Linked DNA regions of Homo sapiens: region 1 is linked to region 2. Evidence: fine-mapped expression QTL. A gene starts in region 2. The other region holds a variant in brackets. All regions are shown on one strand. Distances are from middle to middle.

Region 1 (5,383 bases), 92 kb before region 2:
AATGTGGAAGAGCCATGCTAGCTTCAGAGCTCCCCATGACACTATCTGAGAGCTCTTTTACAACCACCACTCAGTAAGCCTCCCCGTCTTCCCAGTGCTGCTGCCCTTACTCCCTCTAAGAGCTCTTCTTGCACATCAATCTCCATTTCAGACTCTGGTGCCTGGGAAATTCCATCTAGACATACGTCATCTCTAATACTTGAGATACTGAGTGTCTGTGCTACCGAACGTTGGCAGAATATGCCACCTCAAAATTAGCCACTTTGGCATAAGGCATTTCAAAAATAGCAGGAAAAAAAGAGTCTGACCTTCTTTCTCCTCCCTGTACCAGGAAGAAAGAAATATTTTTCTTACCAGAGATGGTGAGTCAAGGCTGAAAAGTATCTGTACCAACAGATCTTATAAAAATAATTTTTATCTTCCTTAGCTATCCCATACATATTAGTTACTTATCCACTATCACCAGACTTTGTTCAACCTAATGTATAAACATCTGGGTTTTGCCACTTCTTTCGGTCTTCATTTTCTTGTGGAGATTTCTAGGTGCATGTAAAATAAACTCTACGATTTTCTCCTATTAATCTGCCTTATGTCAATCTAGTCTCAAACCTAGCCAAAGATCCTAAGAGTGCAGAGGTAGAGCTTTGCCTTCCCTACTTCATTTCAAGTGGCTCAGTTTCAACCCTTGAACAGAATGCCACTGAACATTTGTGATTTCAGCTTTAGTCTCACTGCAACATTTAAACTAAAAATATTCTCTACTAAGCCAGAGAAGTTGGTCACATTATAATCTCCTTGATAACCTGCTTTAAAATTTCAATATGTAGTACTAGAAAAAAATGCAAGGTAGTGCCTGCCCAACAGTGAGTTTAGTTGACAGAATCAAGCAAGTTACTCGTAGCTGCTTGTCAAATTGAACCAAACTAAAGTGAGAAAAGAGCTGATAGGTTTAGAGTCAGGTAAATCAATTAAGGCTTACCATTTCTCCTTACTAAATTGATTTTCATGATCGGCACGAGAATGTCAGCCAAATGATATTAGGACATTTAATTTTATTTTAGCTATATTTACACACACATGAATGCACAACCGGTTTGCCTGAATATAAAGAACACTTGAATCAGGGAACAATCGCACTTTTTAAGACAGAGGTTATCAGATTGAATTTTTTGAAAATATAGGTATATATCCTTTTAAAAAGGTACACTAAAAACAAAACAACCCTGAAAGGTGGGAAATAATATGACGGTGTGTGTGCCAAAACATTTAACTTAAAGAAAAGCAATGTAAATAACAAACCGAATAGAATTTTAGACAAAAATTGATACAAAGATTATAAGAGATAGGTGACTAACCACCAGGAAGTGAGAACATTCATTATCATGTATGTGTGTGTATATATCTATCTATATCTATATATCTATATATATATCTATCTATATAGATATATCTATATATCTATCTATGTAGATCTATCTATATATCTATATAGATCTATCTATATAGATATATCTATATATCTATATATCTATATATCATATACAGATATATACACACACATATATATACACACACATATATATACACACACATATATATATATATACCTACAGGCCCTGGATATATAGAAAGTAATAACTTTAACAAAAGTATAGCAGACAATATACAGAGCATCAAATTATATTTTTGTAGCTCCAACTCCAACATATAAAAGCACATTTGCCATTGATATACCCAGATACATTAAAAAAGAAAAAAAACTCAGTGCTACATCTCTACTGCCCAATACAGTAGCACTAGCCACAAGTGGCTATATAAACTTAAAGTTAAATTTTATTTAACTTAAAGTTAAATAAAATTACAATTACAAATTCAGTGAAAGTAAATTTCTGTTTTTTTGTTTGTTTTGTTTTTTTAGCCACCCTGTCTGTGGTACTTTGTCACTGCAGCTCCAGCCAAATAACACATCAGGTTTGATATATTTTTACACCATACTCTCTTTCATACCTGCTTACTAACAATAATTGGAAATATCAATAACACTGATGATTTTTTTTAAATCACAAAATTATGACATTCAAAATTTAGAGGTTGTTTTCTGAATAAGATATTAAAAGGCACTCAGAATTTCAGAACCCATCTCATGCTGAATAAGACATAGTGTCCCGGAGCCAGGAAAGCATTCACTTTTTATAAATGCACTTTTGTTTAGTTCTCTCAGCTGTGCACAGAAGAAACAGGACAGAGAATTGCACAGATTTGTGCAGCATATTATCCAACCAACAGCAATGATACAAACTCTCAATGGCAGAAGAGATATTATGAGTGTTTATTGTTAATGTTTGAAAATAAAAAGTGGTAATGCTATAATTATATCCTATTTTTTTAAGATTTGAATATATCCTACCATTAAAATATTTGGTTCTCATGCTATATACTTTTCTTTATTTCACAGACTAAGGAATTTATCAGATACCAGAAACTCATGGGTATATTGAATAAGCCCAGAGTTATTGCTAATGTGAGAAACACACTCACCCACCCAAACCCAAAGATGGACTTAGAAGCAAAAAGAACAGCGAAAGTGAGACTTTTAATAACAGCCTTGCAAGATCGAGTGTCTGGTAGGCAGGCACATCTGGGGCAGTCACAACAGGTAATTTATCTCCTAGCACGCAAGTCCCTCCCCTAGTTCCTCATTG[G/T]TCGAGTACTATGGGGTTACAATCTTCCCAGACGTTGCCTAAAGTTTCATTATCTCCCTTATAAGGTTATACCTCCATCCCCTTCCTTGCTTAAGTTTCGACTTCCCAAAAATGAAACTTTCTTCCCTTTTATGGGCTGACCCCTCCGCTACATTCTGTTTGCTTATTGTGACCTTCTAGGTGCAAGAGCCCTGTGGTTTGTTACATTTGCAGCCTGGCTGCCAGTACTTAGATTTATCATGCCTTGAAAATGGACCATTTAAAATGTTTTCTCACACTAACAACACAATCAAAGCCGTTGATATATTTCTTTAACAAACACGAGCAATTTACAAAGTTAATTAATTTAATTTTCCTAAAAAGCTTATGAATAAACACTATTATTACCCAATTTTAAAGTTGGGTAACGTAAGATGGCAGAGAGGTTGAATAACTTCCTGAAAGACACTGGGGGCACAGCCTCAGTTTGAATCCAAGCTGCTGCCTTTGGAGTCTGTGCTCTTAACCACTGTGCTACAGCTTAACCTGCGAGTAGCTCTGCTAACTCTTGTTTTCAAGCGTAGACTTACCCATGTAGAGGCAAACATAGGGAAAAATGAATCGTGTCAAGTTCCATCCGCATGTGTCCCAGTTAAATGTCTACATTAAGGTAAATTAAAGCTGGCAAATCTACAGTATTTAGGGATACATTTTCAGGTTGTAATGTGGTAAAACAAGCAAGAAAGTGATTAATATAAAAATAAATACAGTATTTTGCTTTGCCAGCTGTGGGAGGCTGGGGGAGGGGGGATTGTGGCTAGAAAAGAGTACTACACAGAATGTATCTGGATTAAGACTGTTTTTTTTTTTTTGACCAAATGATGTTATATGAGTTTTCTCTTGAAAACAATTCAATACGATGTATGTTTGTTTTATTCACTTTTCTGTTTATATGTAATTTCTTGCAACAAAAGTCTTAATACATTTATATAGACATACAAATACATATTTTAGGTTTGTTGGAAACAGAACAATATTATATATCCCATTTGCAAATGTTTATATAAAATACATGAAGTATGGCAGCATCCAAAAAAGTAAGTCAAACTTACATACTGTAAAATTGCAGATTCCCCTTCATTATTGCATATACCATAATGACCATAAATTAAGTCATCATCGGCCGGGTGCGGTGGCTCACGCCTGTAATCCCAGCACTTCAGGAGGCCGAGACGGGTGGATCACGAGGTCAGGAGATCGAGACCATCCTGGCTAACATGGTGAAACCCCGTCTCTACTAAAAAAATAGAAAAAATTAGCCAGGCATTGTGGCGGGCACCTGTAGTCCCAGCTACTCGGGAGGCTGACGCAGGAGAATGGCATGAACCCGGGAGGTGGAGCTTTCAGTGAGCTGAGATCATTCCACTGCACTCCAGCCTGGGTGACAGAGCGAGACTCTGTCTCAAAAAAAAAAAAAAAAAAAAAAAAAATTAAGTCATCATCCAGATGGAAATGCTGTGAAAAGTTTCAACTAGCCAGATATACTAGACAAATATTCATAAGAAATAAAACATTTTGAATACTTATTAACAAATTTTAGTTTTTTGGCAGATGTAGTCATATATATGTGCATACATATATACATATATACATACATGTTTATCACACTCAAGAATTATACCAATTAAAGGGATTCTTTATATTTAAAAAATAATAATTATAAACCAAAATTGATTCATATTGTTGGAAAACATTATAAAGAGTTATGTAGATTGCACAGTTAGGAAATAAATTGGCCAACATTTACTAGTTAATCTTTATTAAGAACTTACTGAGTGTCAGGTGCTGTGGTAACACATTATGTGCATTACGTTTGTAAATCCCAACAATGAATTAAGCAGCCTTATGATTCTCATCTCACAGAATCTAGAGGTAAGTAACTTGCCCAAGTTACACTGCTGGTAAGAAGCCCTACTTCATCAACAACAACTACACTTGAAACAATAGCAAAATTGAAGTGTGACAGTAAACTGAATGCAATATACATTACAGTATAATTTATTTTATTACTTACACATTTCAGCAAAGTGCAAGTTTTCTGGAGTATTTATCTTGTTCCCATAGATGTTGTACAGGGAATTCAATAATAAGAATAGTAGCCAGAAAAGAAAAAGGCAGAAAACTTAACAGTTATAAGAAAATGAAAAATTTTAGTACTTTTTTCTATTCCCATGCTATATATCATAATATAGAGGAAATTAAAGAAAAATATTTTTGATTACATAACTTTTAAAAATAATAATTCTGTAGGTGTGAATATGTGTGTGTTAACCTGTATGAGTGATTAATATGTCATTAGAAGAAAGGATGTTACCCACTCTAAAATAATGTTAGATGACATTTATGCACTAATAATATGAACCACAAAAAAAGTCTAAAATATTTCAGACAATGGTACTTATACTTAAAAATGAATTTATCAATATTACCAAAGCAACAGGAAAGTCTATCATCATAACAGTGGAGTATTAATACCCATGATAAAAATTAACTAAATTAAATTATATTTAGATATTTTTTGAATATTCAACAAGAATTAATTTGTAAATGAGTAACAGGCAAACTTACTGACTTTTCCTAAATATAATGACTGACTTCTGAGAGCTAATCAGAGTTCACTGCTTCATTTCAAAAATAGCAGA
Region 2 (5,383 bases):
GACGCACTATCTTCTCCTCTACCCCGCGCCGCCCTCCACCTCGGAGCGGGGACGTACGGTGGTGGCGGTGACACAATGCGAGTGAGTGGGTGAGTGTGTTTTCGTGTTTGGGGTGGAAACGTAGGCGGGGAAGAGAAGGAGGAGAGGGGAGTGCCTGCAGTCCTTCCCCCTTCCCTTCCTGCTAAGAGATCAAAGTGCAGAGGAAATCCAGACGGGAAATGAGAGAAAGGAAAAACAGCAGCCGTGGAAGCACTCTCTTTTTTATATCGCTGGAGACTCGGCCGAGCAACTACTGGAACCATTACCATTTCTTAACCTTTAGTGGAGTGGCTGCCTTTGCCTATTAACTGGAAGGGCACTTTGTAAACGCAGGCGAGGCACACACCTACACACACGCCTACACGCTGGGGGAAAATAACCACATTCTGGGGGACGGAGGGAGGCCCAGGCAAGGCGCGGCCATGGATCTCTACTGCCAGAGCTGCGAGGGCATCTGGCCAGCAACACCCGGCTTCTTGGGCGAACAGTCGCCCAAGAGTCCACAATTTTCTTGTGACTCAAATAGATGGATAGGTGCATGGATGGATGGTGCAGAATATTCATACTCTGTCTAATCTCAAGTGGACTGGAGTCAACGCATTTTTAAATCCATCTACCTTTTTTAGAGGCACAGCATTTAAAACCCTGTAGTTCACTCAGCTTTCCACTTGAAGCTGCCTGCAGAGGATTCTATTACCCGCGGATCCCTCACAAGGGGCCGCCCGCATCTGTGAGCGCAGGAGTGGCACAGCTCCCCCAGGCACAGCTCCCACTCGCCTCCCCACACACCCTGCTGCCCCCGCTGCCCTTTTCCGGCGACTACTTCAGCCCCGGCCAGCGGTGAGACCCAGGTCAGCACAAGGGTTTGTATGGACAAGCTGCACCTCGCAGGGGACCTGGAAGTCGCCTAAACTACTCCAGCAGGACACTCGTCGAAGTCCTGCGTTTTCTTTTAAATGCTTTTTTCTTTTTAATTTAATTTGATTTTTATTTTTCTGTTTTTATTTTTTCGTGCAATTCACAGAAGGCATCACCCTACAAGCTCTCACAACTTTTCCGCTCCTGTGCGGGGACGCGAGGGGTGGCTTGCCCCGCACTATTCCCCATTACCAAGAGTTAACACTGGTACTCGGAGGGGGTGCGCAGCTAAGCTCCAGGCCCCTGGGGTCAGACTAGGAGAGGCGGGTTCCTGGGGTTTGCTGTAATCGATGCTGCTCCTCTGGGATGGGGAGGCAGGAGAAAGCTGAAGTGACCTGTGAGACTCCTCTCCACCTCACCCGCGGCCAAAACGCCCAGCGCCGGGTCTGGGTTTGCGAACGGCTCAGCCCAGGCCCTGCGCCAGAGCACCGCACCCGGGGGCGGACGGCCCTGCAGCTCCCCAGCCTCTTCCCGCATCAACTAGCTGACGCCCGGGCGCACTGGCTTCCCCCGCTCCCGCCCGCACGAAAGCCCTGCCCGACGTCTGCAGTCAGCATCGCCCGCACTGCCTAGGGAGGGTTTGCGCCGAGACCCAGTGGCCGAGTGAGCCACAGAGTCGCTGGTCCTGGGGACGCTGTCTTCTACCGCTCCCCACCGTCCTCCTCTTTCCTGTATCTCACCCCGGTACCCCGCACCCTTCTCCCCGCTCGGCCCCGCGCACTCTGCTCAGACTTTACAAGCACTTTCTCGGGGCACCCAGGACTCGACGCCTCCTCCGCGCCGCCAGCGGCGCTCGCCACCCTTGGCACGCCGGAGGGACCGCCTCCGGCCCCCTGCGCGGCGTTTCTCAGGGGACTCCCAGCCCATCCCTCACCCAGCTGTCCGGGTCCCGACGCCTTACCTTTGCCGAACTGGGGGACACCGAGGCTGAGCCCGACCAAGAGCCAGACGGCTACCGAGCGCTTCATGATCCCGTCTCCCGGACGTGACCCCGGCTGGTCAGGGGTCGTCGCGGAGGGCAGTGTAGCCGAGGTGGCAGCGCAGGGCAGCAGCAGACTCCGCCCCTACTAAAGAATTCAAGAAGACGTTCTCTTTCCTCAGCGCTTTGTTAAACAAATTCTTGGAGAGGGCGAGAGTGGTGACTAAAGAGAGGAGCCTTTCCTCCCCTTTTGCCTGCGCTCCGGCGCGCGGAGGTGGGTGAGCTCCGGGGAGCCGCCGGCGGGCTCAGCCCTCCGCTGCGGGTGGGTCCCGGCAGAGGCGCGGCGGGCGGGGCGCGGGCTCCCGCGGCCGCCCCGGGTCTGCTGCGCGGGCAGGCAGACCCACCGGCAGACAGGCGGACCGGGCGCTCGGCTGTCGCTGTTCTCCGCGCGGCGGCTGCGGGGCTTCTGACTTGGAGAACAATGAAGCGTGAGCTGGAGGGGAGCGAGCGGGCCGCCGGGAGCGCACTGTGTACAAACAGAGGCGGCGTGCGTGTGAGTCTGAGCCTGGCAGGCGCGCTCCCCACTCCCCCGGCGCCCGCCCGCCCTCCGCCCGCCCTGTTATTCACTCCCCGGGTCTCCCCCTCCTCTCTCTCTCTTTTGCTCTCTCTCTCTGTCTCTCTTTTGCTCTCTCTCTCCTTCCTCCCTCCTCCCCTCCTCTTTCAGCTCCTTCTGCTATAAGAGAAAAGGGAGACAACTGCAGCCACACCCTAGCACCTAGCACCTGCCACCACCTCTGAAGTTCCTGCATTGCCTGTACCTTCTCCGCACATGCTGGAGACTGTGGGGTTAAGAGCTGCACCCTTGCTGCCTGAGAGTCCCTTGGATTCCAGCACTGACTTTATAATTAACCACGTTAAGGATTCCCCTGAACTTCCTTTCTCAGTATAACCAGGAACAGAAGTTAAGAGATTTTGAAAAGTGACTCTTGGGGCACAAAACTGCATGAGAGACAGAACCCTGCAAAGTGAATTGCCCCGTATTTCTCAGGAACTGCAACGTAGTCAGCAACCAGACCCTAATCAGCTAAGACAGGGCTGCTCTGCTGCTCTGTCTACAATTTAGTTAGCTCCAGGGCTGGGGAGAGAGGGTTGTGGGCTCATCTGTTCACGGGGGCAAAAGGGTGGAAGTGAGTAGGAGACATGCATCTCGTTAAGCAGGACATCTGTTTCAGAGAAGAAGTGGGGCAAGTTTGGGAACTGTGCAAGAACATAAAGGCAAAGACAGACCCTTGAAGCATCACTAAGGTGGATCAAATTTTCTTTCTATCCGCCAAAATAAATGGACTGGTTTTTGCAGTGGAAGTGATTGAACCAAAAATACAGCTCATGGCTTACAATTGTGCTTTCTTCTCTGTTTTTCGGTTAGAATGATTGCTTATTGTACATGGATCCAATTCCAGCAGTTACAGGTACCAAAATGAAACAGGGCTTCTTTTTTCTTTTTTTTCTTTTTTTTTTCTTTTCCTTTTTTCTTTTCTTTTTTTTTTTTTTTTGTCTTCTAGAGAGGGAGGTAGGGAGAGAGACAAACACAGAGCTAGAGAAATTGAAAGAGAAACATTCTCGAAGGCAAAGAGTTGAAAGGTGAATCTACTAAGAAAAGAATAACAGAGTGCAATTAGCCATGGAACTACATCTCCATCTGCCTCCTTTAAAGGATGAGTCCTTTAAAGGTGAGATGAGTCCTTTAAACTTAAATTTCTACCTTCCTTTTCAAATTTTAAGTGAAATGAAGAATGCGAGGTGAATGGAACCGTAATGCTGAATACTGCTAGGGAGGGTTTAAGGTATTGTATAACTGACAAGCAAACAACGGAAAAAAGAAAGAAAGAAAGAAAAAAAAGAACACCTTTCAGAAAGGGTTTGTTCATATCTCACGATTGGTGGGAGGGTTAAAACACATTTTTTAAAAAATCACCTTGCTAAGAGAATGAGAGAGATTCATTTATTTACTGTCTATTTATATGCCTAAAGTCACAGATGTTAGAATAAGACAGTATTGTCCAGAGTTGTAGCAAAGATGTTTCAAGCAATCAAATTCTAATTTTCTGGTGCATCATCATTACTTCCTTGTGAAACTATGTTTTCAGTCACCCTGTGGCATGTTCATCCTAAAATACACTTTAACTTTTGAAATGAGATGTCTAATATTAGTTTTAGGTTTTATTTCTAAAGGATAGTACTAAATCCTAAAAATGTAAAGTTGGAAACCAGTCTCTCTGGGATGTGATATTTAAGGGAAAAAAAAGAGTGGGTTAAGAATTTTGTGTAGTTTTGTATGTTATTCCCTGTTTATTTCCACTTTTTTGATAGTATTTGACCTTAATGAGCATATTAAGAAGTTAAATTATTTTTGCCAACAGTGTGTGTTTCTAAACATGTATCTTTCTTTTAATTTAAAGAAGGGTTTTTAAAAACTAGTGGGCATAAAAGTACATTACAATGCACATTCTATGCCCAAATACTTGGTGCGGAGACAGTAAATGACATTCTGTATTACCTGATAGACAACTTATGAAAGATGTTGCCAGTTTAATATCTCTACTTTCTCGTCTCATTTCCAATAAAAAATTGATAGTCTTAAATCCACAGCTCCATATTCATAATCATCCCCTCTTTTTGAACCACTAATTGATAATGATCATCTACCAATAAGCCTTTCATTTTGAAGATTCTAGGCACTTTACCTAATTTACCTTGATAGGACTCATTTCACTGTTACTGCACTCACACATAGCCTCTTCAGAAGTGGAATATAAGATATGTTAGAAGACTGCAGAAATTGAATTATTTAAAATAAAATAAAATTTAAAAAGTAAAAGGATGAAACTCTATTGTGAAGCTTGTACTTCACACAAAGTGCTAAGGGACCTTTACTAATCACTGTGATCCAGCCTACAGTTTTATAGCTTCTCTTAATAGGAGCCTACAGTGCCAAAAATGAATCTGTACATCACTCAAAGACAGTGCTTTTCAAGTTATTTTCTGCAGGCCTCCTTTTCCCCAAGATGTTAATAGGTTTCTGGGAGGAAAAAATCCATGGTAAAATAATTTGGGGAGACATTGCATATCAAAGCAGCCTCTTAGAGATTCATGGTGAATGTTAGTATATTAAATACTTTGAAAGGTCCTGTGGTTAAGAATTTTTTTCAAAAATATTTAATTCAGCATTTTGCAGACTTTCTTTTTTGTACTATGACAAACTTTTTCTTAGAACACCTGTTAGTATACTAAATACTTAGTGCTGCAAAGGAAATAACTTGAAAATGATGCTTTGAAACAAAGCAGAATAAAGTAGCAGCAAAACAAAACAAAAAAAAGACTGTAAAAAGTTCACTGGGTTTTGCTATGGGCTGAATGTTTCTGCACAACCCCCCTCCCCTGCGCCCAAATTTATTTGTTGAGGCCTAAGAACCTACTGTGATATGTTTTGATGTAGAGCCTTTGGAA

Alleles and levels. Alleles are on the strand shown, and positions count from the first base shown. SD is a standard deviation of normalised expression in the study named.
In carriers of allele G in region 1, the expression in gastroesophageal junction of the gene that starts at base 2,431 in region 2 tends to be lower than with T alone (moderate effect, 0.49 SD a copy in GTEx).

The links. PIP is the estimated chance that this variant, and not a neighbour inherited with it, causes the effect.
Region 1: its variant is the best candidate, but not a certain one, in a credible set for the expression of EDIL3 in gastroesophageal junction (GTEx, PIP 0.89).

Annotation. Positions count from the first base shown.
Region 1 is chr5:84,290,240-84,295,622 of GRCh38, forward strand. All of the region lies in intron 1 of EDIL3 (EGF like repeats and discoidin domains 3), which reads right to left. Among named protein-coding and RNA genes, the nearest start is that of EDIL3-DT, 89 kb to the right of the region's middle. The variant G/T (reference allele first, on the strand shown) is at 2,703.
Region 2 is chr5:84,382,450-84,387,832 of GRCh38, forward strand. It overlaps EDIL3 (EGF like repeats and discoidin domains 3), which reads right to left and starts at 2,431. Exons shown (of 11, transcript NM_005711.5): 1 at 1,859-2,431. The coding sequence starts at 1,925. It overlaps EDIL3-DT (EDIL3 divergent transcript), which reads left to right. Exons shown (of 4, transcript NR_183295.1): 1 at 1-89; 2 at 5,373-5,383.